Homo sapiens: one gene and its partners. The protein of the gene in region 2 interacts with the protein of the main gene of each other region in a pairwise test. Each region holds a gene or a part of one and is shown on either strand. Other genes may lie near its edges. The genes, in order: ZC2HC1C, FSD2, FAM161A and CCDC146.

The links.
Region 1: the proteins of FSD2 (region 2) and ZC2HC1C interact in binary tests that used the Homo sapiens proteins (3 or more experiments, as listed by UniProt).
Region 3: the proteins of FSD2 (region 2) and FAM161A interact in binary tests that used the Homo sapiens proteins (3 or more experiments, as listed by UniProt).
Region 4: the proteins of FSD2 (region 2) and CCDC146 interact in binary tests that used the Homo sapiens proteins (3 or more experiments, as listed by UniProt).

Annotation. Positions count from the first base shown.
Region 1 is NC_000014.9:75,072,614-75,079,640, forward strand, and holds part of ZC2HC1C (zinc finger C2HC domain-containing protein 1C), read left to right. Parts: intron 1-4,918; coding exon 4,919-4,951; 3' UTR 4,952-7,027.
Region 2 is NC_000015.10:82,782,068-82,789,094, reverse strand, and holds part of FSD2 (fibronectin type III and SPRY domain-containing protein 2), read left to right. Parts: intron 1-1,626; 5' UTR 1,627-1,704; coding exon 1,705-2,343; intron 2,344-2,488; coding exon 2,489-2,584; intron 2,585-6,069; coding exon 6,070-6,300; intron 6,301-7,027.
Region 3 is NC_000002.12:61,844,053-61,851,079, reverse strand, and holds part of FAM161A (protein FAM161A), read left to right. Parts: intron 1-7,027. UniProt on the Homo sapiens protein: Involved in ciliogenesis.
Region 4 is NC_000007.14:77,118,008-77,125,640, reverse strand, and holds the start of CCDC146 (coiled-coil domain-containing protein 146), read right to left. Parts: upstream 3,027-7,633; 5' UTR 2,909-3,026; intron 1-2,908. UniProt on the Homo sapiens protein: Essential for sperm flagellum biogenesis and male fertility.

The DNA of each region.
Region 1 (7,027 bases), on a different chromosome or scaffold from region 2:
ACTTACATGATAAATTTAGGTGAACTTCATAGGCACATTTGGACATATCTGGAGAAGATTGTCTCATAAATGAATGACATGTCAAGGTTGTGCCACTTGGTTTATAAAATGGTTATTTCTCAAGGTGTGGCATGCTGACAAACTTTATTTTAGTAGTTTTAGTGTTTAGTGTTGTATTAGAAAAATTGATTCGTCGTTTAGTGTTATATTAGGAAAATATAACAATATATTAAGCCCCTGATTTCCAGGGATCATGAATTTACAGAAAAATATTAATTAGTTGTAAGGATGAAGTGAAAGTGCAGATGATTGAAGTTTGGGAAAGCGTAGATCATATGATCTCAGAGGCCCCATCTAGTTCTAATATTCCAGAAGAATAAGAGAGTGTCATTCTGTTTTCATTTCTTCCCAACCCTCCCTCCGCTGTGCTGGCACCTCTTGTCCATTGGCACTTTACAGTTTCTGTGTATTTGCTGGAGCCTTTAAAAACTCACATTTATATGATGGTTGTTAGAAGAAATTGTTTACAATTAGAGTTCTTTCTTTTAGTAGTTTGGAGAAATCACAAGGAAGTCCCATCCATGTTCAGAGATCATCTCCCTGAAATCTAGTTTCCAAAGAAGAAATCAGCATTTTGCTCTTGCAGATAATAATATGATCACCACTTACTGTTTTTTCCTGTTTTCTTTCAGTTCAACCCAGTAATCCACTGGGAATTCACTCTATGTCCCACTGTAGCGATTTATTTTTGGCCAGAGCCTAAAAGAATCTTGTGTTTCTTAAATTCGTAAATACAGTTACGGTGAAGCAAAATAATTAGGTTCCTGAGATCAGATGCTCCAGCTTTATGGCAACTAGTTTGTGGGAATGTGTGACATTGAGGACACCAAGACAGAAGGGACCTAGACTAAGATGCACCTGCACCACCCTGGTAATGTCTCAAATCTTATTCCACAGTGCTGTGCCTTTGGAAGCTGAGTGGTTGTACCTTCCTGTCATTCCTCTAGAGTACTCAAGAACAGGTGATTTTCCTGGTATCCTTTAATCTTCACGTAACTCCCAGCAGACGTACACCCTGTCTCTCTCCTGGACTGTAAGCATTTTTGAGGACAGGGAACATATTTTGTGCTTTGTGCTTAATAAGTGTTAACTGAATAGAATTTCAGTACAATGAGGAATAAAATTATAGGAATTAGAGTATAAGAAGTAAATTACTAAAGGATCTCATATACTTGAGGAACTTTCCCCTGATCAAATTCTTTGAGAGGAACTTTCCCCTGATCAAATTCTTTTTTTGAGACCGAGTCTCGCCCTGTTGCCCAGGCTGGAGTGCAGTGACGCGATCTCGGCTCACTGCAGCGATCTTGGCTCACTGCAGCCTCCACCTACCGGGTTCAAGCAATTCTCTGCCTCAGTCTCCTGAGTAGCTGGGATTACAGGTGCCCGCCACCACACCCAGCTAATTTTTGTATGTTTAGTAGAGACGGGGTTTCACCATCTTGCCCAGGCTGGTCTTGAACTCCTGACCTTGTGATCCACACGCCTCAGCCTCCCAAAATGTTGGGATTACATGCATGAGCCACCGTGCCTGGTCTTCGAATTCTTTTAAAGGTTCCTGGATACCATCGCTAATACTCTCTTGCCTTCTTGTCTGTTTTGGCAAGAGACTTTCTGGAAGGATCCTTTCTTTTCCTTTGATAGTATCTCTTCCTATTATTCATCATTAACAATGCCAGATCACCAAGAGCTAGTTGTCTTTTTTCTCTTTAAAAAATTTAATAGTGTTTGCATGCATTTAAAAAACATGTAGTACTGAATGACCTATAATGGAACCCCTAATTCAGCCCCCGGAGGCAGCCTTCAGTTCTGTTAGATGGTTCTTCTGGTCTGCCTTTCCATATTTCCAAATAATATGCTTATTTTCTTGATTTATCAATTTTCTACATTACCTGTTTTTTTTTGTTTTGTTTTGTTTTTTTTGAGACGGAGTCTCTGTCGCCCAGGCTGGAGTGCAGTGGCTTGATCTTGGCTTACTGCAACCTTCACCTCCCGTGTTCAAGCAATTATTGTGCCTCAGCCTCCTGAGTAGCTGGGCTTACAGGCGAGTGCCACCACGCCCGGCTAATTTTTGTATTTTTAGTTAAGACAGGGTTTCACCAAGTTGGCCAAGTTGGTCCTGAACTCCTAACCTCAAGTCATCTGCCCACCTCGGCCTCCCAGAGTGCTGGGATTACAGGCGTGAGCCACGGTGCCTGTTCTACCTGGTAACTTCTTATGGAAGCTGGGAGTGAAGTTCTCTTTCATATTCCCTCTCTCCTACTGTTCTCTTTCTCTTATCCTTCCACTGTAGTCGAATCACAATTTTTGGTTAAAAGTAGTTAGCTTTCACATTGTAATGATCAAGTAAATTTTGTTCATTAATGAGTGAACAAATTCTGTCTCTGCCCACATGTACCTAAAATTAATAATGGACGTATGTTTTCATTTCCTTCATTTTCTACATACCTGTCTTTTTCTCCCCCGCAACGATCCATCTGATATCAGACATCTGTTAACGTTTTTGTAATGCTCAAACACCTCTCATAATCTATCAGTTTGATTTTTTAATTCTGAAAACCTCCCTTCAGCCACTCTGATCCCTTCTGCTCCAACCTGGACTGGGTATTCTCTAGGCCTGGTGCAAACTCATTCTCTTGGAACTTCTCTTTGCTTCTCTTCTTTGTTGGGTCCTCTGTTTCCAGCATCCTGTGTCTTCCTTTTTCTTGCATTACTCCTTCCTTTGCTGAAGCTTACTAAGAAGGGTGCATAGCAGGTATATTGTCTTGGAATGAATGACACTATCTATATGACAGGCTCCCATTTGATGATTTGGCTAGGTACAGAATTCTAGGAGGAAAATGATTATCTGTTAGAACTTTTAAAGTATTTCCCACTAGCTTTTAGCATCCAGTGTATTGTTGTGAAATCTAATGCCATTTTGATTCCTGTTCCATTACAAGAAACCTTTTTTTTTAAAAGGCTACGGGATTCTCTATTTATTTTGAAATTCTGAAACTTTACAATAATTGTGCTAGATACTTGGTAAGCCATTTCAATCTCAAAATGTGTGACCTTTAATTCTAGGAATGTTAATTGTATTATTTCCTTAATAATTTTCTCCTCACCAGGTGCTGTGGCTCACGCCTATAATCCCAGTACTTTGGGAGGCTGAGGCAGGTGGATCACCTGATCTCATGTGTTCAAGACCAGCCTGACCAATATGGTGAAACCCCATCTCTACTAAAAATACAAAAATTAGCCGGGCGTGGTGGCGCACGCCTGTAGTCTCAGCTACTTGGGAGGCTGAGATAGGAGAATCGCTTGAATCTAGGAGGCTGACGTTGCAGTCAACCAAGATTGCGCCACTGCACTCCAGCCTGGGTGACAAAGCAAGACTCCATCTCAAATAACAACAACAACAAAAACAAAACAAAACAAAACAACAATAATTTTCTCCTCGTGCTTTCTCTGTTCCTTCTGCAACTCTTATTGGTCACATGTTGGACTTCCAGGATTAACTTTCTAATTTTCTAATCTTTTCTTTTTACTTTCCATCTTGATCTTTTTTCCCATTCTGAGAAATTTTCTTGACATTAGTTTACAACATTTCTATTTATTTATTTATTTATTTTTTGAGACAGGGTCTTGCTCTGTCGCCCAGGCTGGAGTGCAGTGGCATGATCTTGGCTCACTGCAACCTCTGCCTCCTAGGTTCAAGCAATTCTCCTGCCTCAGCCTCCTGAATAGCTGGGACTACAGGCGTGTGCCACCACGCCCAGCTAATTTTGTGTATTTTTAGTAGAGATGGGATTTCACCGTCTTAGCCAGGATGGTCTTGATTTCCTGACCTTGTGATCTCCCCACGTTGGCCTCCCAAAGTGCTGGGATTACAGGCGTGAGCCATCACACCTGGCCTCTATTTAAATAATTTTTATTTTTAGCTATCAAAGTTTTAATTTACAATAGTTCTTTCTGGTTCTCTGGTTGTCTTTTTTTCACAGTATACTCTTCTTGTTTTATGGACACAATCTCTTCTAATACTCATTTTGTTGATATGGTCTCATGTTAAAAAAAAGTTTTCTTCTGCCACCTGCCTTGTTGCTGCCTCCTAAGTTTTTGTTTGTGGACTTTTTGGCTCTTTTTCTTGTTAGAGCTTTTAGCAAATATCTGATGATTCCTGGCTGTCCTTTCATATTTAAGCTTAAGTGGGGCTCATTGACTAAGGATCTTCATATTAAGGTTCCCAGATAGTGAGTCTTTTAATTAGCGTTTCCCAAGGTCAGTATCTGAAGGCTTTTCTCTGGACTGTTCTGTGTATCCAGAGTACCCCTCTTTTTCCTATGAGGATGCCAATATGCTTGGTACTCTGGGGGCTGAGTGGGGGAAGGAGGCTGACAGTTCGATAATTTGGTATGTACACTTGTACTTAATCCCCATTTTCAGCCCCAAGATTAACCCAGTTCCACGTGTCTAGATTTCCTGAGTCAGAAATCTGTGTGGTTCAATTTCTCCAGAGAATAAATCCTTGCTCTTCTGTGAGTGTGCTTGGGTGTTGAACACTTGGATGCATAAGGTGGGAGGAGCCGTGGGGTCCTACTTGTTTTCAGTCCTGTACCTCCTTACTTTCCACTATCGGGTACTTCCAAGCACTGAACCTCTCAGGTTCTGTTGGGAAAGTGGCTTGCCTCTCAGCAGTACCTCCTTTGCAGGCCCTTGGTTTGCCTCAACGCTGGCAAGTCAGTTACCGCTGTTGCTCCTTTCCTGTTCTCTTTGACCTTGCAGATTAGTACCCTTTTCATTTTCTTACTGTTATTCTACAAGAGACTCAGGAAGGAGATAGGTGCCAACTTGAATGATCAGTCTCCCTTTTACATTACAGGCTGAACCTCCTCAGAAGAGCAACTGGAGATAGAAGCATGAATCTTTTATCCATACGTTCCGCCAGGCTCGAGAGGTCCAGCAGGTAACTGCCAAAGGTGGAAACTGTTCACACTTGCCTCCCATCCTGCCTGCAGAAAACCCAGACTGCATTCAGTGTCCTCAGTGTAGCCACCACTTTGCTCCCAAGGTGGCTGAGCAACACATTCCCAAGTGTAAGACCATCAAGAACTGTCTTCCACCTCTAAGGAAGCATTATAGTTGAGCAGACAACAATGGAAACTTTTGGATAGTTCAGAAAGCTCTGCTTCTCTTCAGCAGTAAATGGGAGTAGAATTTGATGCAAAGCAGAAAGAAATCAAACAGCTCCCAGATCTGCCTGCAGAGCTAAAATCTGTGAGGAGAGAGCCACTGCTAAGCAGCAGGAGGCAGAAGGAAGCCCCAGCTTCCCACTAAATTACAACCTTGGGCTGGTATGCTTTATGTTATTGCCCTCAGAATTGATGGGTGAAGACACTGAAGAGTCATGAGCAGGCTCCATTAAAGCTCTTTTCTTGCATGCCTGACTTGTGGTTTGTGCTAGTTAAGTGCCTGCATCTGGTTCTGCCTTCTTGTCACTGCATGTATGTTCAGAGTTCCTGTTAACTCTTGCTTTTGTAGAAGCTGGAGTTATTAGGATGTGTTGGTGTCAGAGGGGCATGATCACCCAGATAGTAACTCTTATAAAAGATAATACAATTTTGCTATAAGGCATTATTAATGGAAATCTATCCTTGGTCTCCCTGGTGCATAAGCCTGGCCAAAACCCAATACAAGTATGTAAGGTTAAGGCACCAATGTCTCCTAAACCTTCCCTATGGTGTACTGTGTAATAAAGGAAAGATCTTTATGTACTTTACAGGGTAGGGATGGGTGTTGGGGGGGAAACACATTATACTTCTCTCTACTTGTTCTTTTCTAATGGGTTTCATATGTTAAGAAAGAAACCTCCATTTTAGCTGTTAGTAGCACTCTACTTTCAAATCGGTTTGGCTAAATGACTGTTTAGAGGCAGCAAAATCTACCATCAAAGCAAGCTGAGACAGGCTGGTCATGGTGGCTCATTCCTATAATTCCAGCACTTTGGGAGGCTGAAGTGGGAGGATTGCTTGAGGCCAGGAGTTCAAGAGCGGCCTCGACAACAAAGCAAGACCCCATCTCAAAACAAAACAAAGCTGGGACACTGCACAGTGTCACATGCCCTTGGCAATTATAGCATAGTCAACTTCTATTTCAGAGAGTAAACTTTGAAGGGAAAGGGATCAAATCTTTTTAATTTTCTCTGTGTAGAATATTGCCTAGCACAAGTTAGACCTTCAATTAGTGAGGTCTGGAGATTTAAAATTAAACAAGAAGATGAGTGAGTCCTACACTAGTGAAATCAGAGAACTGATAAGTTAATGTCTGCGAGAGTATTATCAGTTCAGATAGGAGTGAAGTTAGCACAACAGATAGAAATCTTAGGATTACTGTTCTGTATTACTCAAATTGTTAGTTTAAAATACTGGAGAAAAACTGCTCAATTTGAGCTAGTCAACAGGGCTAGACAGACAACAAAATCCTATTTTACTAAGTAACAAATGGCCACTCACTCTTGCTCCATTTCCACTGCACTCCAGCCTGGTGACCTAGTGAGACTCCATCTCAAAAAAAAAAAAAAAAAAAAGAAAAAAAAATTGGGCTAACAGATCAGACCAATTTGAAATGTGAGTTAAGGCTTTAGCGGTGAAGCTGCAGGACACAGGCTGGGAAAAAATCCTATATATTTAAATAGGAGCACACATTTCTTTGCACTCTTTTTAATTGTTCCAAAGGAAAGGAGGTATCACATAATAAAGCTTTATGGTTAGCCCCTTAAGGAAACCTCACACAGAGATAATGGATATTTAACCTAATAGGTACATTCCCTAGGCAAGTTCAATGAAATGTACACTTTAAGTGGGAATGTAAACCAGTACATTGCAATAGATGGCAAGAGTAAGCTGTGGCCAAGGTCACAAAATGGCAACATGTGGATTGCTTTGCTCCACAGATGTTTTATTTCGCTGGCCTAGCATTCATAATATGATCT
Region 2 (7,027 bases):
CATAAAATAATTTTTTTCCTTGTATTTGGGATTTTTCCTCAAGGTTCCAGAAGAGGATTACTAGGTTAGAGAGAGTATGAACAGGCTAGAGAGTATGAACACTTTTTTTTTTTTTTTAGACAGAGTCTTGCTCTGTCGCCCAGGCTGGAGTACACTGGCGCAATCATGGCTCACTGCCTCAGCCTCCCTAGTAGCTGGGACTACAGGCATGCACCACCACACCTGGCAAATGCTTAAATTTTTTGTAGACATGGGGTTTCACTGTGTTGCCTAGGCTGGTCTCAAACTCCTGGCCTCAAGCAATCCTCCTGCCTTGCCCTCCCAAAGTGCTGGGATTACAGGCATGAGTCACCACACCCTGCTGAAAGTGTGAACATCTTTAAGGTTCCTGACCCAGGTTGCCAAGCTTGCTCTTCAGAAAAGTGGGGCCAGTTTACATTCTAGCCGGCAGCATATGAGAGTGCTCACTTCACTGTCCCCTTATCCAGCTGCGGGTATCACTTTTGATATTTTTAAATATTTTCTAACTGAAAAGGCAAAACAGCATCTACTTATTTGTTCTGTCACTTTTTTTTTTTTTTTTTTTTTTTGAGACAGGGTCCTGCTCTGTCACCCAGGCTGGAGCGCAGTGGTGTGATTTAGGCTCACTGCAACCACCACCCCTCAAGGCTCAAGTGATCCTCCCACCTCAGCCTCCCAAGTAGCTGGGACCACACGTGCACACCACTATGCCTGGCATTTTTTTTTTTTTTTGTATTTTTGGTAGAGACAGGGTCTTGCCATGTTGCCCAGGACGATCTCGAACTCCTGAGCTCAAGCAATCCATCTGCCTCAGCCTCCCAAAGTACTGGGATTATGGGCATGAGCCACCACGCCAGGCCTGTTCTGTTACTTTTAAGTACAGTTTTTTTCAAATGTTTTTGTGCAGGTGCTATCATATACAAAAGTAATTGTTTTGTGAATTGTCTGTGCACATTCATCTATTGAGATGCCACTTTTTCAATTAATTTATACAATTTAAAAATAATAGACTGGGCGCAGTGGTTCATGCCTGTAATTCCAGCACTTTGGGAGGCTGAGGTGGGTGAATCACCTGAGGTCAGGAGTTCCAACATAGTGAAAACCCGTCTCTACCAAAAATACAAAAATAAGCTGGGTGTGGTGGCACATACCTGTAATCCCAGCTAGTTGGGAGGTGGAGGCACAAGAATTGCTTGCACCCTGGAGGCAAAGGCTGCAGTCAGCCGAGATCATGCCACTGCACTCTAGCCTGGGTGACAGAGTGAGACTCCATCTCAAAAATAAATTAATAATAATAATAATAATAATTGCCTGAGATGCTTCCCATTATTTTGCCTTTTAAGTTTTTTTTTTAATGTATGAGGGAAGTATTTTGTTGGACATATCTATTAGACATTTCTTTTGTAATTTCTTTTGTCTCTTTTAACCTTAGAAAGCCCATCCTCCCATAGAAAACAAATTTTTTAAAGATGGTTCAAAGTGAAACCACGACTGAACTACACAGATAATTTTTTTAAAGTTTTATATGAGTAGAGCCCAATCTAATGATCATCTACTGCAATGCCCTTCTCCAGAAATGATTTTCCTCCTCCTTTTGTGTTCCAGGGCCCAGATATTCACTATTAAGTGTCCAGGAAGGATCTTTCTTATATAAAGGTGCTTCTGAGGACTTCCAGAGTTACAATGGAGGAGGAATCGGGGGAGGAACTGGGGCTGGACAGGTCTACTCCCAAGGATTTCCACTTTTACCACATGGACCTGTATGACTCTGAAGACAGACTGCACCTCTTTCCAGAAGAGAACACTAGGATGAGGAAAGTAGTCCAAGCTGAAATGGCCAATGAGTCAAGAGGAGCAGGGGATGGTAAGGCTCAAAGAGACCTTCAAGAGGAAGTGGATGAACTTGTCCACTTATATGGACTTGAAGATGATCATGAATTAGGGGATGAGTTTGTTGATGAAAACATACCCAGAACAGGGGTTTCAGAATATCCTCCTTATATGATGAAGAGGAGAGACCCAGCCAGGGAGCAGAGAGACTGGAGACTTAGTGGAGAGGCAGCGGAGGCCGAGGACCTGGGCTTCGGAGGGTGGGGCTCAGCAGGCCAGTGCCAGGACTTGCGGGAAGCCTATAGGTACACACACGGCCGTGCCAGCGAGGAGTATGAATGCTATGTCATCCCCGAGGAAGAGGATGAAGAAGAAGCTGCTGATGTCTTCTGTGTCACTTGTAAGACTCCAATAAGAGCTTTTCAGAAGGTTTTTGATGAACATAAGGAGCATGAAGTGATCCCACTCAATGAAGCACTGGAAAGTGCCAAGGTAAATAGGTGTCCTTGGTTCTTCTCTGTCTTGATATTGCTTTGGTATCTCAAGTACATACGCAGGGAATAAATCTAAAACGCCTTCTACAAGAGTGAGAGAAGATGTAACATTAATACCTTCTTTGTGATCCTCTGTTGGATAGGATGAAATTCACAAAAACATGTACAAATTGGAAAAGCAGATAATTGAGATGGAAAACTTTGCAAATCATTTGGAGGAGGTTTTCATCACTGTGGAGGTAAGAGCACACTTGAAGACCTCATCAGACTCACATTTCTTCCATCAATGGCTATGTCAAGCAGCTGTTTCTGGTATGAGCTAGAGAATCTGTTTTCTTAGAATGTGAGGGGTCACCACTCCCCCTTCTCTCCTCCCTTCTTTCACTGACCTCCCATAGCACCTGGGCATGGACGTCATGGAACCAATTACCTGTCAGCATTCCCTGCTGAACTATAAGCTCTTGGTGTGAAAGCTGGGTCGTCTGTCTCAATATCCCTAGTCCTACTACATGGTATGTTTCAGAGCAGGCATTTTATACATGTTTGTTGCATGAGTAAATAAGGTAGAAATTTCCCAATCACAATCCCTCTCCTTCACTGGCTTCATTTTCTCCTAATCCCCCTTTACCCAAATCACCAATTGTATGTGATTTAGACCCTTATTCGAATTCTTTTTTTAATGTATACTGTTTTCATCATTCAACTTGATAGACCCTTATTCTAACAAAGATGACTTCACGGTGGCATCATCCAGTGAATTCCCTCATTTGAGCCCAGGTGGTGAAGAGGGGACATCCTTTCTTTTGCCCTTGTCTTTTTGGGTTTGTTTATTTGTTTTGGACCTCTTTTTTTGGGGTAGAAGTTCTTACTGAGAATCCCCGGGTTGCTATCTGGTGCATTGGCGGAGAAACCAGAAACAGTGGAGTTCCATGTTGTTCCGTTGGTTTCGGGAGTTGTTAATTTTAGGCTTTTGGGGGTACCTATAATGTTGACTATATAAAGTCAGGTGTAGACTGTCAAACACTTTTTTGTTGTTCTAAGAGGCAAAATACCCACTTCTGCCAATGATCGCTACTCAAACAAAGGAATATTTTTAGCTCTGCATGCATTTAAAAAATAAATTTATGGCTGGGCACGGTGGCTAACGCCTGTAATCCCAGCACTTTGGGAGGCCAAGGCGGGTGGATCACCTGAGGTTAGGAGTTCGAGACCAGACTGGCCAACATGGTGAAATCCCATTTCTACTACTAATAAAAAATTAGCTGGGTGTGGTGCCATGTGCCTGTAGTCCCAGCTACTTGGGAGGCTGAGGCAGGAGAATTGCTGGAACCCGGGAGGCAGAGGTTGCAGTGAGCCGAGATCACACCACTGCACTCCAACCTGGGCAACACAGCGAGACTCCATCTCAAATAAATAAATAAATAAATAAATAAATAAATAAATAAATAATGTATTGCCTTTGTCTAGTTAGCAATTTCCAGACTTTTCTGAGAGATCAGTAAAAGCTTAGAATTCTAGGATTGGAAAGGAGTTTCTATTCTTTGACAGCCCCTCTCCCTCCCAATCTTGACATGGGTAAGAATGTGAGCCTTGATCCAGATGCCAAGACGACTGAGATAGAAGGTGTGGTGTGGCTCTGTAACTTTTGTCCACTAGTCATATTGGCCCCTAGAGCTACACAGAATAAGACTAGCTCCTCTTTCACGGTTCAGCCTTGACAAGGTATTACAGGATACCCATCCCGTTTTTGGTAAGTGTTCTTTTCCTCAGCTGATATCTATTTCTCATAAGATTAATAAGTTTCCATGCCTGTCACCAAACATGCCACAGTCCCCTGTGTGTGCCCTAGTAGATACATGGTAACCACTATGATGCCAGAGCTCAACCCAACCTTCCAGATGAGGTCAACCAGGACTGAGGAGCTTAGGACTTGCCCTCTCTCTTCTCTTCATGCGGATGCTCTACTTCTATTAATGCAGCTTCGGATGGTACCAACAGGAGGATCTTATATGAATCAACGAAGCCCCAGGCCCATTTCCCATGAAGGTAGACCTTTTCCAGCCCCAATCTTACAAGGGAGGAGAGCTATTGCACTAATCCCCCATGGAAGATACAGAGAAGTGGCAAACCCTTCCACTGCCAAGCATAGGGTAGTGGTAGAAGGGGGTAAGTGTACAACATCGAAGACAAAACTTCTTACATTGGCCGGGCACAGTGGCTGACGCCTGTAATTTCAGCACTTTGGGAGGCCAAGGTGGCAGATCACTTGAGGTCAGGAGTTCGAGACCAGCCTAGCCAAGATGGTGAAACCCCATCTCTATTAAAAATACAAAAAAAATTAGTTGGGCTTGGTGGTGGGTGCCTGTAATCCCAGCTACTTGGGAGGCTGAGACAGGAGAATCACTTGAACCCAGGAGTCAGAGGTTGCAGTGAGCTGAGATCGCTCCACTGCACTCCAACCTGGGTGGCAAAATGAGGCTCCATAAAAAAAAAATAAAATAAAATAAAATAAAATAAAAAACTTCTTACATGCTGCTCTGCCAGCTTACTCTCAGATCAAAGTCCCTTCATCCTCAGTGGCCATCCTTTCATACTCAACACTGGGAAGTTCATCTATTGCCTTTCTCTCTCTTCCACCATTCTGAGCAAGTCCTGTGCACATAGCAGGTGTTCAGTAATTACTCCCTGAATGATTGATAAGATCCTCTTCCTTGGAAATGTCCCCATCATCTGATGAGGATGACATCCATCAGAGCTTGCAGAGCTCTGGGGACAATATAAGCAATATATACTCTATTAATATTAATATTTCTCATCTACTGTGCTCCTGGATTAATATTGTCAGAACCCTCCCTCTGCCCTCTTGCATCTTCTCATCTGTAAGCAGTGCCGCCAGACCACAACCCTTGTTCCTCCTTTGCCTTCATTTCTCCCCTAGTTGATATGATCCTAGTTGATTTAATCTTGATATTTGTATGATCCAAGCACCAGGGAGTGAAGAGGAGCCTCATGAGATGTTAAGAGCTCAGGAGAGAATGATAGATGGGAATCTCTCAGGGAAAATATTTCCACATTAAGGTCCAATATCGGGCAGAATCATCACTGATAATCTCCCTGGTCACTTGTCATGGTGATAGAAGGTAGTTGAAACTGGAACTGGATTGCAAAATGCTGCCAGGAGAGAAAGCAGTGCTTTTGTTTAGATTATTCCTGGAGTCTAGGCCGGAGACACCTATGTTCCAGCACCTCCAGTTTCCATTCCAACTCCCAACAAGAGATGAGAGGACAAAGTAGAGGAACTAAAATAGTTCTGATAGGCACATATTTTCATTTCTCTAATGACTCTAATCAGGCTGGGCGTGGTGGCTCTTGCCTGTAATCCCAACACTTTGGGAGGCTGAGGCAGGCGGATCACTTGAGGTCAGGAGTTCAAGACCAACCTGGCCAATATGATGAAACCCCATCTCTACTAAAAATACAAAAATTAGCCGGGCATGGTGATGCACACCTGTAATCCCAGCTACTCAGGAGCCTGAAGCAGGAGAATCACTTTAACCTGGGGGGCAGAGGTTGCAATGAGCCAAGATCACACTACTGTACTCCAGCCTGGGCAACACTGCAAGACTGTGTCTCAAAAACAAACAAACAAAAAAACAAAAAACAAAAGACTCTAATCAACACACTACATGCGCTGAAATGATGACTGAGATCAACTGTCTTGCAGGAGAATTTTGGAAAACAAGAACAAAACTTTGAGTCACATTACAACGAGATCTTGGAAACACTTGCTCAAAAATATGAGGAAAAAATACAAGCTCTAGGGGAGAAAAAGAAAGAGAAGCTGGAAGCCTTATATGGACAACTGGTCAGCTGTGGAGAAAACCTAGATACTTGCAAAGAACTGATGGAAACAATAGAGGAGATGTGTCACGAGGAGAAGGTGGATTTCATAAAGGTCAGTAATGAAACAAAATGAAATAATGAACATAATGGAAAGAGATGGAATTATAAACGGAAACGACAGTTATGGTTGAGGTAAGCTAGGTTGTCCTCTTTCCTCCTGGAGGCATTGGAATCGACTTTTATGGCCAGCATCCATTTGATTCCACTGGATGATCGTGATGGGGAGGCTGTGGCCCAATCTCTCTGCATGGCTTCCACGTGAGTGGCCAGGCGGACTCACAGCGCAGACTCTCTCCCTCCCCCAGCGCAGAGGCAGCACCAGTCTTTGTTCCTCTGTTCTGGTCACCCAGATACCTGTTCCCTCATCCTGGAGCTAAGCTGAGCAAAAACCGTGCTCTAACAGTTTTTTGTTGTTGTTGTTTTGTTTTGTTTTGGTTTGGTTTTTTTGAGACGGAGTCTCACTCTGTTGCCCAGGCTGGAGTGCAGTGGCGCGATCTCGGCTCACCGCCAGCTCTGCCTCCTGGGTTCACGCCATTCTCCTGCCTCAGCCTCCCTAGTAGCTGGGACTACAGGCGCTCGCCACCAAGCCCAGCTAATTTTTTTTTTTGTATTTTTAGTAGAGACGGGGTTTCACTGTGTTAGCCAGGATGGTCTTGATCTCCTGAACTCGTGATCCGCCCACCTTGGCCTCCCGAAGTGCTGGGATTACAGGCGTGAGCCACCATGCCCGGCCAAGAGTTTTATTATTATTATTATTATTATTATTATTATTATTATTA
Region 3 (7,027 bases), on a different chromosome or scaffold from region 2:
CAACATAGAGAAACCCCATCTCTACTAAAAATACAAAATTAGCCGGGCGTGGTGGCACATGCCTGTAATCTCAGCTACTCAGGAGGCTGAGGCAGGAGGATCGCTTGAACCCGAGAGGTGGAGGTTGCAGTGAGCCGAGATCACGCCATTGTATTCCAGCCTGGACAACAAGAGCGAAACTCCATCTCAAAAAACAAAAAATGAACAGACACATAACTATAAGATGGGAAATGTTGGGAAAGAAATGAACAGCCTATAATGATTAAAAATAAATAGGAGAGAACCTATTGTTTTTCTTCTGACTCCACTTTTTATTTATTATTTTTTGAGACAGAGTTTCACTCTCTTGTCCAGGCTGGAATGCACTGGTGCAGTCACAGGTCACTGCAGTCTCAACCTCCCAGGATCAATCAATCTCCTCACCTCAGCCTCCCAAGTAGCTGGAACTAAAGGTGCATGCCACCACGCCCAGCTAATTTTTATATTTTTTGTAGAGACAGAGTTTCACCATGTTCCCCAGGCTGGTCTCGAACTCCTGGGCTCAAGTGATCCACCTGCCTTGGCCTCCCAAAAGTGCTGGGATTATAGGCGTGAGCCACTGTGCCTGGCTCCACTGTCGATATACATACATACATACACATATACACACATACACACGAACGCACACACACATATATTTTTTTGAGATGGAGTTTTACTCTTGTTGCCCAGGCTGGAGTGCAGTGGCGTGATCTTGGCTCACCACAACCTCCACCTCCCAGGTTCAAGCGATTCTCCTGCCTCAGCCTCCCAAGTAGCTGGGATTACAGGCGTGTGCCACCACGCCCGGCTAATTTTGTATTTTTAGTAGAGACGGGGTTTCTCCATGTTGGTCAGGCTGGTCTCCAACTCCTGACCTCAGGTGATCCGCCCGCCTCAGCCTCCCAAAGTACTGGGATTACAGGCATGAGCTACCATGCCTGGCCTATATTTTTAAATTCACCTGTTATTTTAGATACAGAGGTGCATGTGCAGGTTTGTTACATGGGTATATTGCATCCAGGTAGTGAGCATGGTACCCAATAGATAGTTTTTCAACCTACGCCGCCCTCCCTCCCTCCCTCCCTCCCCACCTGGTGGTAGCCCGCAGTGTCTGTGGTTTCCATGTTTATGTTCGTGTGTACTCATTATTTTACCTGCCACTTATGAGAACATGTGATATTTGGTTTTCTGTTAATTTGTTTAAGATTATGTCCTACAGCTCCATCCACGTGGCTGTGAAGGACATGATTTCATTCTCTTTTTTTTTTTTTTTTTGTGATGGAGTCTCGCTCTGTCACCAGGCTAGAGTACAGTGGCACAATCTCGGCTCAATGAGACCTGTGCCTCCTGGGTTCAAGTGATTCTCCTGCCTCAGCCTCCTGAGTAGCTAGGACTACAGGTGCACACCACCACACCTAGCTAATTTTTGTATTTTTAGTAGAGACGGGGTTTTACCATGTTGGCCAGGATGATCTTGAACTCCTGACCTCAAGTGATTCGCCAGCCTTGACCTCCCAAAGTGCTGTGATTACAGGCCTGAGCCACCATCCTGGCCTAATTTTTTTATTTTTATTTTTATTTTGTAAAATAAAGGTCTCACTATGTTGCCCAGGGTGGTCTCAAACTCCTGGGCTCAAGCAATTCGCCCTCCTCGGCCTCCCATAGTGCTCGGGTTAGAAGTATATGCCACCATACCAGGTGACATTCTTCTCTTAAAATATCAAATGTTACATATGACGCTTAGGCCCTTTTAACAACTCTCCCCCAGAAGAGAAAATATGAATACCTACTCCCTCCCTAATGGTAGCCACTGTTTCAAAATTGATATGTATTCTATTCTCTGGCCGTTTTTCTATCTCCTCCATATATTTTAATATACAGTACATACTATATAAATATATAAATAAATATATAAATATATATAAGTATATAAATATTTAAATATATATATAAATATATATATTTAAATATATATATAAATATATATATTTATATATATATAAATATATATAAATATATAAATATATATATAAATATATATAAATATATAAATATATATATAAATATATATAAATATATAAATATATATATATATAAATATATATATAAATATATATAAATATATATATATAAATATATATAAATATATAAATATATATATAAATATATATAAATATATATATAAATATATATATAAATATATATATAAATATATATATAAATATATATAGATATATATATATAAATATATATATAGACAGAGAGAGGGAGATAGTTCTGCAACTTGCTTTTTTTTCTTATTTATTGGGAGTTTACCCATGTTAGTACATGTAGATCTCTCTCATTCTTTACAAATTCAGCGAAAAAAATTTTTTCAAAAATTACAGGTTGCAGATGAAACTATATAGGCTGCAGCACAAATAATTCTTCATAGGTGCTGATTACTAATAAAGCAACAGGTACTGGAAGGATTCATTATCTAAATGGGTCAAGCCAATCTAGGGAAGATTATCCTCTAATCTGGTGGCTGCATTTACAACATTCCACAAAAAGCCGATTAAAGGGAGAGGATGCTATTTTAGGCTCTTGGAAAAATAATGTCTATGGCCTAGGTTATTTTGTATACTAAATATTTTCTCAGTGGAGACAATTAAAGATTAAATTAGAATTGGAGGTCATTTACTAGCCATTCATCTGTTTTAGGTTAAACACTGTGAGATCAGTTTATCTGAAAAGTTTCAGCTAGCGTTAACAGTATTAAGCTGAAAACAGAATGGATCCAGTGCAAAATCAGTACATAAGTATAATTTATCAGACCTGCCGCATCTTTCAGAAGCTACTCATTCTTCTATATGGTTTTCAAACGGTTCTTCCAGGTCCAAATAAATTTGATCCTTCTTGTGTAAATGACTGCTATAAGACATGATTTTTAAGAGATATTCTAAAAGAATGAATGAGAGCGCATAGATTCTTTTGCTTAAAAACAGTTCTTTGAAATACCCTCCCTGTTTTAATTATAGTTTTTGGAACATAGGCCTTTTTCTTAATACTTGGTGGAATATAGCTCTTTAGAGCAGCCAGCATTTCTTTGCATGGTTCATTCTTTTGGGAGGGAGTAACTGCCCTCTTCCCAAGGTGGAATTTTTTTTTTCTGTACATTCATTCATTCATTCAGTAAATATTCCTTGAACATCTGCCATTAGCCAGGTACTTTTCTAGACACTGGGGACACAACATTAAACAAAGCAGACAAATCCTTGCCTTTCTTTTTGTTTTGTTTTGTTTTTTTGAGACAGGGTCACACTGTTACCCAGGCTGGAGTGCAGTGCCTCCATCATAGCTCACTGCAGCCCCAACCTCCTGGGCTCAGGTGATCCTTCCGCCTCAGTCCCCCAACTAGCTGGGACTATAGGTGCATACTACCTCACCAAGCTAATTTTTTGTATTTTTTGTAGAGATGAGGCCTTGACGTGTTACCCAGGCTGGTCTGAAACTCCTGGGCTCAAGCAATCCACCTGCCCCAGCCTCCCAAAGTGCTGGGATTACAGGCCTGAGCCATCAGGCCTGGCAAATTCTTACCTTTGTAATGTTTACTTTTTGGTAGGGGCAGGCATATAATACACAATCAAGTACAGATATGTAGGACGTCAATGGTGATGAGTACTTCTGGGAAAAATAAGACAGACAAGGGGGCTGACAGTGAGTCCTGGGAGAAGTTGTAATTTTAAATAGGAGAGTCAGGGAAGACCTTATTGAGAAGACAACATTTACATAAAGACCTGAAGGAGTGAGCAAGTGGGTCATGTGGATATCTGGAGGAAAAGGCATCCTAGGGAGAGGGAACAGCAAGTGCAAAGGCCTTGAAGTAATTCTGTGGATTTTTGTTTCTTTTTTTTTGAGATGGAGCCTCACTCTGTCACCCAGGCTAGAGTGCAGTGGTGCGATCTTGGTTCACTGCAACCTCTGCCTCCTGGATTCAAGCGATTCTCCTGCCTCAGCCTCCCGAGTAGCTGGGATTATAGGCATGCACCACCACACCCGACTAAGTTTTGTTTTTAGTAGAGATGGGGTTTCACCATGTTGGCCAGATTGGTCTCGGATTCCTGACCTCAAGTGACCCAAAGTGCTGGGATTACAGGCATGAACCACTGTGCCTGGCCAATTCTGTTGATTTTTCGAGTGAAAACTGCATACTGGATTCAGACACTGCTACTAAAACGAACTGCTGCTGCCCAGATGAATAACCGTTGCTAGACTGACACAAGCCGACAGGAAGCAGTCAGAGGGCTAACAGAAAGGAGTAAGTCCCATCTTTCTCCTCTAGCCTTGTATCTCCCTCTAACTCCACTTTTAGCAGAGTCTGATGAGGAGCACTGGCAAAGCAGAAGTGTGGTTTGCAGAGTTCCAGCTCTGGCATTGCAAAGCAGAGTCGAGAAGGGTGGCATTGGAGCTGAGAGACACTAGTTTAACACCTGGCACACCTACTTTACATATCTTAAAGCTGATGTTCAAGAAGTTCATGCCCACATCACATTGCTAAGTGCGGAGCCCAGGCTTGTATGAGTATCCTGACGTCACATCTGAAATCTTTCTCCTAAGCTGTGAGAACACTCCAAACTAAAAGTTATTTAACTCCCACCCAACCCTTTCATCTTTGAAGGGTCATAAGGGGGCTGAAACCACGTGACCAGTAATCAGGAGCCAGTGGTAGGCAGGAGATGGAAACCCCTTCTTGCTTGCCCTAACCTCCCTTTCTAGGTTTACTTCCCAAAACTGCTTTATGGGTTTTCCTCTCCTTTTATCCGGCAGCCATGTGCACCTTGCCCTCTGCTATGCACAGCCTCCCCAACCCCAGCCTGCGCATTTGCTAACGCCATTTCCTTTGCCTAGGGTACTTTCCCCTTCTTTCCCATAAACACTCTGTGATCCTATAGATTTCTCCATTCTTTTTTTTTTTTTTTTTTTTTTTTGAGACAGAGTCTTGCTTGATCGCCGAAGCTATAGTGCAATGGCTCGATCTCAGCTTACTGCAATCTCTGCCTCCCAGGTTCAAGCGATTCTCCTGCCTCTGTCCCCTGAGTAGCTGGGACTACAGGTACACGCCACCATGCCTGGCTAATTTTTGTATTTTTAGTAGAGAAGGGGTTTCACCATGTTGGCCAGGCTGGTCTTGAACTACTGAGCTCAGGTGATCCACCCACCTCAGCCTCCCAAAGTGCTGGGATTACAGGCGTGAGCTACCGCGCCCAGCCTTCTTTTTTCTTGATACAAGGTCTCACTCTGTCGCCCAGGCTCAAGTGCAGTGGCGCGCTCACGGCTCACTGCAGCCTCAACCTCCTGGGCTCAAGTGATCCTCCCACCTCAGCCACCACATCCAGCTAATTTTTTAAAAAAAATTTGTAGAGATGGTGTCTCGCCGTGTTGCCCAGGCTGGTCTGGAACTCCTGGCCTCAAGCAGTCCTCCCACTGCAGCCTCCCAAAGTGCTGGGATTACAGGCATGAGCTACCACACCTGGCCTCCATTCTTTATGACTCATCTCAAATATTACCTCCTCCAGGAAGTCTTCCCCTATCTTCCAAACTCAAACGAAACAAAAGCTCCCTCCATTTCCTGTCTACCACTGGCTCCTGGTCACTGGTCACCTGGTTTCAGCCCCCTTTTGACCCTATAAAGGTGAAAGCATTGGGTGAGAGTTAAATAACTTTTAGTTTGGAGTGTTCTCATGGTTTAGGAGAAAAATTACAGATGTGGTGTCAGAATACTCAATCAGAGGCTCCAAAGACCCGTATCAGTTGGTCTTTGTATCTCTCATGCCACTCTCTACCTCCTATTAGTCCTCCTTCCGCTGCTTATTTAAATGTTGGTGTTCTCCAACATCTCCATTCTCAGGTCCTCTCATGTCTTGTTGCTCACACTCCCTCCAGGCAGCCTCGTCCATAACCAAGGCTGCACCTGCTACTTCTGTGTGGATTGGTGGCTCCTGTATCTGCTCTCCAGCCCAGCCTTCTCACCAGGTCTCCAGACATTTATCCACATGTTTCCTGGCGATGGATGTTCTAGCACTATGCCTCGGATTTATTTATTCCTTTTTCACTGCCTCCCTGATCTGGCAAACTTTGTCCTCGTCCAACCATGTGTCTCCAGTCTGGCTCACCTCTGTGAATTGTGCCTCTGTCTCTTAGTGTCTGACATTGTGACATACATCTGTCTCTCCGCTTAGCTGGAAGTAGCTTGTGGGCAGGAATCAGGTGTTCTGTCTCATTCTAAGTCAGCTGTCTATTATTTATATACATGTCCTTTCCTAAGCTAGCTGGAAACTTCTCAAAGGTAGAGTTTTTGTTTGTTTGTTTGTTTTAAGTGAGACAGAGTCTTGCTTTGTCACCCAAGCTGGAGTGCTGTGGTACGATCTTGGCTGACTGCAACCTCCACCTCCTGGGTTCAGGTGACTCTTCCGCTTCAGCCTCCCGAGTAGCTGGGACTACAGGTACCTGCCACCATGCCTGGCTAATTTTTGTATTTTTAGTAGAGAGGGGGTTTCACCATGTTGGCCAGGCTGGTCTCAAACTCCTGACCTCAAGTGATCTGGCTGCCTCGGCCTCCCAAAGTGCTGGGATTATAGGTGTGAGCCACTGTGCCTGGCCTCAAAGGTAGAGTTTAAAAAAAATCTGACGTACATTTTAGCAGCTAGCTGATTGCAGGATGGCCCCCAAATATTTAATGAATGAGGAAATTCACAAAGTAGTCATCCTGCAGATAAGAAGTTTATGGTGAGAAGCACATAAAGAAACAGCAGAAGATATCAGAGAATTCTCTTAATTGAATTGTTTGACATAGTTAAAGCAGTTCTCTGATTCATAGAGTTGTTGGTAGCAAATTTCTGCACGTAAGTTCTATTGAAGACTGCTTTTTTTTTTGGAGACAGAGTCTCGCTCTGTCGCCTAGGCTGGAGTGCAGTGGCCTGATCTCAGCTCACTGCAAGCTCTGCCTCCCAGGTTCACGCCATTC
Region 4 (7,633 bases), on a different chromosome or scaffold from region 2:
ATTAAATAAAATATTCGTTGACATTTATATCTAGATGGTAAGAAATCTTCTGCCCATCTGATTATTTGAGTCAGTTTTAGGAAACAATATATGCTAAGAAATGCTTTAAAATTGTTTTCTTATAAATGTAATATATTTTCACTATTGATAACACACAAAAAATTGCAGTAACCACTCATCATATCACTGCTTAAAGATAACAACTGTTATCAAGTGGTATATATCCCTCTGGAATTGTTTCTGTAAAGTATAATTTTATGTTAAATTTATTATTATTATTACACAATTGAGATCATACTATACGTGCAATTTTGTATATATTCTTTTCACTTTATATATGGACTATTTCCCATATCAAGATATGTTTAAATTGTTGCATAATATATCAGCTATATACTAATTTATGTAATACTGTCTTATTTGGGAGCATTTAACATTTTTTTATTGAGACAGAGTTTCACTCTTGCCGCCCAGGCTGGAGTGCAGTGGTGTGATCTCGGCTCACTGCAACCTCTACCTCCTGTGTTTAAGTGATTCTCCTGTCTCAGCCTCCTGAGTAGCTGGGATTACAGGTGTCCATCACTACGCCAAGCTAATTTTTTTAATTTTTAGTAGAGATGGAGTTTCACCATGTTGGCCAGGCTGGTCCTGAACTCCTGACCTCAGGTGATCCACCTGTCTCAGCCTCCCAAAGTGCTGAAATTACAGGCATGAGCCACTGCACCTGGCCAGGGAGCATTTAAATTGATGCAATTATTTTCTCTTACAAGTAACCCTATAAAACATAATTCCTTGAGCATCCCTAATTTTATGCTTACATCCCCAAAAGCACAATTTCTGAGTCATAGAAAAAGCTTTTCATTCTTATTGCTGAATTGAACTCTAAAAATTTTGTGCTAACTTAACACTCCTACCAGAAGTATATGTTCATGACCACAGAAATAGCTTTTTTAAACTAAGATGTGAAAATATCTTAGAAACAAACTCTAAATAAGGAGAAAAAAGTTGTATATAATTTTCTACTTATGAGGTGAATAATTTCATTTTTTCTTCAAAGGTGTCAGGAAAATGGACGTTTTGGTAGAGTGATAAAAGGGCCAGACCTTCTAATTGCTTAATCTTAATGTTTCTGAATCTGTTTCCCCATCTATAGTGTGAGGAGAATAATTTCCCTCCTAATTAGTGAGGATACAGTGAGATGACGCATGTGAACATGGTTTGACAATTATAATGTCATATGGATGGAAGATACAACTTTTATTAATCATTGTTGATATGTGGACAGATTTGATACTCATTATACTGTTTTTAAGTGTCTATAACTTTAACTATTTTATACCAATCTTAATATTAATAATTTTCTCCATTTTCAACCTTGTATGATCAGCAAAGTAAATTTTCAGTCAATTCTATTTGGTTTTTGTTTGAAAAAGTAAAATAATGATTATGCAACATAGAAAATTATAGTTCAGTTGCCAATTCCATTAACTTAGTTTGTCTCAGAAACGGAAAAATTACCATAGACACAGAATTAACTATTAAGAATTAATATTTAATCTAAAAATGTCTAGTGTTTCTACAGAAAATTTGAGTACATTCTCAACTTCCTTAAACCAGTGCCTTTTTCAAATTTCTTTTCAAAGTTACACCTGTCAATTTTCATAAAAAATAGTTTGAAGATTATTCTGAATAATTATAACCAATGAAACACAAAGACAAGAAAAGAACTATTGCAGTGGGCCCTTGCTGAACCTGAGCTAGCACCTATAATGAGTGAGTCTTCACCGAAAGAAGAATAAGGAGGGAGCAAGGACTAGAAGGACAGAAAAGAGGCAATGATAACTTAAGAGAACACTGAATTTTTAAAAATTTTAAAAAGGTAGTGGCTAGCAGAGAACCTGAGACTTGTACCCATGAGAACTTTAGCCCAGTCTATCTATCACGATAGCCCCAAGAATTCTGGTCATTGTACTTGGGTAAGGGCTTCAATTTTTTAAGGCACTTGCATTTTATGAAATGTTAGTGTTTGCAGGTGTCTTGGCTAAATAATTTAGGGAATACATTTTAGGAGGAAGTAGGGGCACAGAGGGGGAGAGAGAAACCAGGCAGGAAAGAAGAAAAAAAGAAGAAAATAAATCTTTCTGTTCCCATTATTTTACTGCCCATAGAATTATAAAAGGTAAACACACACACACACACACACACACACACACACACACACACACACACACACACACCTTATAGGGTCATTTAGAACCATCTTTCTTCATTTTAAAACTAAAGAAACAGGTCTAGGTGACACAGATGAAGCAGTGGCAGAGCCAGGAAAATAATCTGACCCTTGTCCCTGCTCTTTCCACCGCACCATGGTGACTCTCTTTTTTGTGTCTTTTTTTTTTTCACTCTAAAACTGATGATCATTTGTAGTCAAAGAGATCAATGCTATTCTCAAAACAAGTTCTGATCTCTCATAATTTTCTTGGTAACTCAGAATCAATGTTAAGTACGTTGAAATAAAAATACAGTACTTTACACGGTAATTTGGTAGACTGTGCACCACGGTCCCATCCATTTTCTTACTTGATCCTCACAAAAACCCTTTGAGGCAAGGCAAGGAAGGTATTATCATCTACATTTTTAAAGTGAGCAAATTAAAACCCAAAGTAAGGTCACTTAGGGTCAGGACGGAGCAAGTACTCTATTCCTATATTTGGAATATAGGAGGGAATACACTTCCAAAGAGGCAATTCCCTCAAAAAGCACCAATCTTGCTCTTTACTCTCTTACCAAGGCATTCTCCATGCCCTGGAGATGCCCGCACTAGGTTAGTGAAGCTTGGATCTTGACATCCACATAGGTTACTCCTAGTTTGCACCTAGTTGTCAACTTAAAAAGCGCAGTTTCTTACCCCTTCCCTTGGTCCTGATCCTTATTTAGGCTCCTATTTTTCTCTTTGGGATTTGGCCTCCTGGGTCTCACTCCAAAGCTCCACCCTCTCCAAACAAGAAGTCGCGTCCTTGGTATCCAAGGTGACCATGCAGCTTTACCCTCGTTGCCCCCTTCCGTGCTTCCCATTGGCCAGTGGCCTCCCATGTACCGCCCCTCCAATAGCCAATGGTCTTGAAACAAAGGGCGCCCGCCTTTCCAGCGATTCTAACACCTGCCCTCTTACCCGTGCTCCCCTGCGCATTGCCTCCTGGGATATGTGGTTTCTAAGAGGCGGAGCTCTGCGACTTTCCACCGCTTTAGAACTACGTATCCCGTCGGCCTTAGCGAAAGGGGGTGGACTTAGGCAAGGGGTCCAGGTCAGAGTTCAGAGCTTTCAAATCCCAACTTGCCCCTGGGGATTACGCAGCTGATGTTTACATCGCCTAGTCAAGCCAACCGGCTCGCTCTTGTTTCAGCAAACCCTGACTTACGTCTCCTATTTGACTTGAGGCGGCACAGTGGCCAAGTCGATTGGCCGTGGCAAGTGACCCTCCCTGTGGCTGAAGTGTTCTGAGGACTGGCGAGAGAGGCGCGCCATGCTTGCCCCCTGTTCAGGTTGGGAGCTTGGCTGCTTCCGTCTCTGTCTCCGTCAGGTCCGACTGTGGGCTGGCGCTGGGCGCTGGTCTTGCTGGGCTTGCCAAGCCAGGCCGTACAGCTCAGGTAGGGGCGAGCGCTGGCCCGGATCGGAGACTGAGGTCCCTCCGCCTGGCCCGGCGCGCCGAACTCTGAAGGAGTGGACACTGCAGGTGAGCCCGTTCGGTCGGCTGCGGGCGCGGCTCCCGTGCCACCTGGCCGTGAGGCCCCTGGACCCCCTCACCTACCCGGATGGCGACCGCGTGCTGGTCGCGGTGTGCGGCGTGGAGGGCGGCGTGCGGGGCCTGGACGGCCTGCAGGTGAAGTACGACGAGGATCTGGAGGAGATGGCCATTGTGTCTGATACTATCCACCCCCAGGCGTCCGTGGAGGTGAACGCGCCCCTGAAGTTTGGCAAGTGAAGTGAAGTGAAAACGGGTTTGGGTCCCAGGGAACGCACAGTGAACTTAATAAATTTGGTCGACGTGCACTTTTAATTGGTCCTGGCTTTCTAAACCTAATTTACAGTTGGCCCCTTCGGAAATGCAACTTTTCCTCTGTTCTATTCTTGAGTATCCGAGTAGTATTTAAAAAATTAGGTTCCCAATTATAGAAATTTTATACATCGAATGGAAACACGATTTGGTATAATCCAGGTCAAATTCTATTTCTGGAGCCGCTTGTGTTCTTCTTTATCCCGTTGTCATTAGCAAACTGGCTTATTTTTCAAGGTTGAAGTTTCTTGACAATTCATTCAATGGTATGGCAGTCCATCTACATTTCCCCTTGCTCACAGCCTGGGGGTGTGTCCCAAAACAGCCCTGTCAATAGGATGTTCCAGGTACCACCTGGTTTGAGTATTTGGTTTTAGACGGGCGCCCAGCTTCTTACTGTTATGTTTCCATTCTTTTTGGCCTAAGTTTTCCATGAGTAGCAAGCTTTGAAGAAAAACACATGGTAAGCCTGCCTAGGAAGCTTCAATAATAATGCCTGCAAGATACCTTTCTTAGGTTTTCCTAAATGGCAAGCCACTGTGTACACACACTTTTCTAGGAAGGGCTCCCCAGACTGTCATTCTTCCTGGGACTGAAGGAAGATATTGATGATGATGATGATGGTAATAATAATAGCATTTAGCATTTTTAAGATCATCTTTTATAATGCTTACAGTTGCCCAAATAGTAGATGCCGTAGTCCTCCCTTATCCACCGTTTGGCTGTCTGAGTTTGTTACCTGCCTCAACTGTTGTAGGAAAATATTAAGATATTTTGACAGATCACAGTAATATAACTTTTATTACAGTATATTGTTATAATTGCTGTATTTATTATTATTGTTGTTCATCTCTTACTATGCCTAGTTTATAAATTAAACTTGATCATTGATATGTATACAGGAAAAAACATAGAATATATAGGATTTGGTACTATTTGTGGTTTCAGGAATCAAGTCGGGGGGGCGGGTCTTGCCTACTTTAAGAGAAATCATCAATATTTATGTTAATTCCAAATTAAATATCAGCGTTTTTAATTTTTAAAATTTGTATACAGCGATGCCTGCAGTTACATCTTAAATAGACAGCCAAGGATGGCATTTGTAATTCCTTATTTTCCAAACTTGCTTCATGTACCACTGCCATTTGTCCACAATCTTGTGGGGTTTTTTGTTTGTTTGTTTTGGTTTTTTTTGAGACTGCATCTCACTCACTCTGCCATGCAGGCTGGAGTACAGGTGCACAATCATGGCCCACTGCAGTCTTGACTTCACGGTTTTAAGCAATCTTCTCGCCTCCGCCTCCTGAGTAGCTGGGACTACAGGTGCATGCTACCATGCCTGGCTAATGTTTTTGTTTTTTTGTAGAAAGGGAGTTTTGCCACATTGTCCAGGCTGGTCTTGAACTCCTGGGCTTCAAGCAATCCTCCTTCCTCGGCCTCCCAAAGTGCTGGTATTACAGGCATGAGCCACGGCTCATGGCCTAATCTTGTAGTTTTAATAGTATATATTAGGTTTTTCAAAGTTGTTCCCATTTTTAAAAAATTACTTCAAATACCTTGTGATATAGTTGCATGGTAATATTTTCATTTTTTAAGTATGAAAGGTTAGACATAGGATTTGAAAACCTAAGTCATGATCATATATACTGGGGAAGAGGCTTCTACAGTCTTTCACAGGAGTACTTAACAGAATCGTAGTCTCCTTTACTTCCCATCTATGTTAGTTCTCTTTAGGTGATTTAGGCCAGTAGAAATAACTGCTCTGTTTCTAAAAACGGGCAGAAAGGCTATTGTATTTGGTCCCGTTGCCGTGGTAGAAGACCCCTTACCTTTACAGTATGCACTTTCCAGGATTCAGCAATATTATGGACATAACTGAGGAGTTGGGTTTCTAGGTTAAAATGCTTTGGAGCTTATAAACTGCAGTACTAACTTGCTTTTTTCTTTTTTTACTTCTAGGTTTAGATATCAAGTCATCAGGGTCTGGCTGTGTAGAAGTTCAAAGTATTGAGGGTGATAATTGCAAAATTGAAACAGAGCATGGGACTAGCATCTTGCAGTCTGTTAAGGTATAGCATTTTTCTAATTTTATTTCACTATTATTTTTTTAAAAGCCTTAAGCTATGAATCGTACTATCAAACTCAAGAGATTCTTCTGTTTTTCAGAACATTGTCATTTATTCATCTCTCAGAAAGTCCTTGGCAAACATTTTGCCTTGAAATCAGTTCTAGTAAAGTACAGAGGTTATAGCAGTTTTGAGGTTTTGCCTCAAATTTCTTTTTGATTTAATTTCAAAGTGTACAGTGAAACTAATAGTATTTTCCTAGTATTCTGAAATCTTACTAAAGAAATTTTAGTTTCCACAAATGATTTTCTTCCATTTTATTAAAGAGTAAGGAAGAATCTTTGTGCACTATAAATGTGCTTAAATATTAGATGACTTTAATCACATTTTTAATGTACCAGGTAGCTAGCTCATTACTTAAGGATTAAGTAGTTATTTGTGCAAAGTAACATATGATTCATCTTGTTTTGTAATTAAATTTTTTTTTTTTTTTGAGACGGAGTCTTACTCTGTCACCAGGCTGGAGTGCAGTGGTGCAATCTCAGCTCACTGCAACCTCTGACTCCCTGGTACAAGCAATTCTCCTGCCTCAGCCTCCCAAGTAGCTGGGATTACAGGCATGCACCACCACACTCAGTTAATGTTTGTATATTTAGTAGAGACAGGGTTTCACCATGTTGGCCAGGCTGGTCTCGATCTCCTGACCTCGTGATCCGCCTGCCTTGGCCTCCCAAAGTGCTAGGATTACAGGCATGAGCCACTGCGCCCGGCTGTAATTAATTTTTTTTTTTTTTAGTGTTTTCTTTGTAGAGACAGGGTCTCACTGTATTGCGCCAGGCTGGTCTTGAACTCATGGGCTCAAGTGATCCTCCTGCCTTGGGCTCATGAAGTGCTGGGATTACAGGTGTGAGTCACCATGACTGACCTATATTTAATTTTTTAAAGATTAGACTGGTGTTAGCTGTAAATAGTTTGAAATACCTCTCTGATAGGTGCTAGCTTATCGTTACTCTTAGTGCTTCTTGCATTTGCATAGTCAAAACTTGATACTTTTGTGAACTTTGAAAGCATGCAATTTTGTTGAAGTCAGTCATCTTTGCTTCATAATTGCAAAATATTTTCATTTTTAGATTTCTAAACACTAGTTAGAATAATTTGATGCATTTTTAATTTTTACATATTTTTTCTTTCATCCACCTTTATTTGCGTATCTGCCATCAGCATGTGTCCACATATGAATCATTTCAAATAAATTTTTGGCACAAATATCATAAAAGATTAACATTACCATCACAAGTCCTTCTAGCAAAATAAGTTGGTTCAGATTCTTGTTGTAAAAGATTGTATAATAAGGTCTTCATGTTGAATGACTAGGTGAGGATATCATAATTCTTTTTTGTCCTTAGAAATATTTTGTTCAGTCATTGATACTTAAGTTTCAGAAAACTAATCTAGACTTGTCCTCTGAAGACTCAAGAGTTTGAGATTTCCAATTTCACAATCAAAATTAGA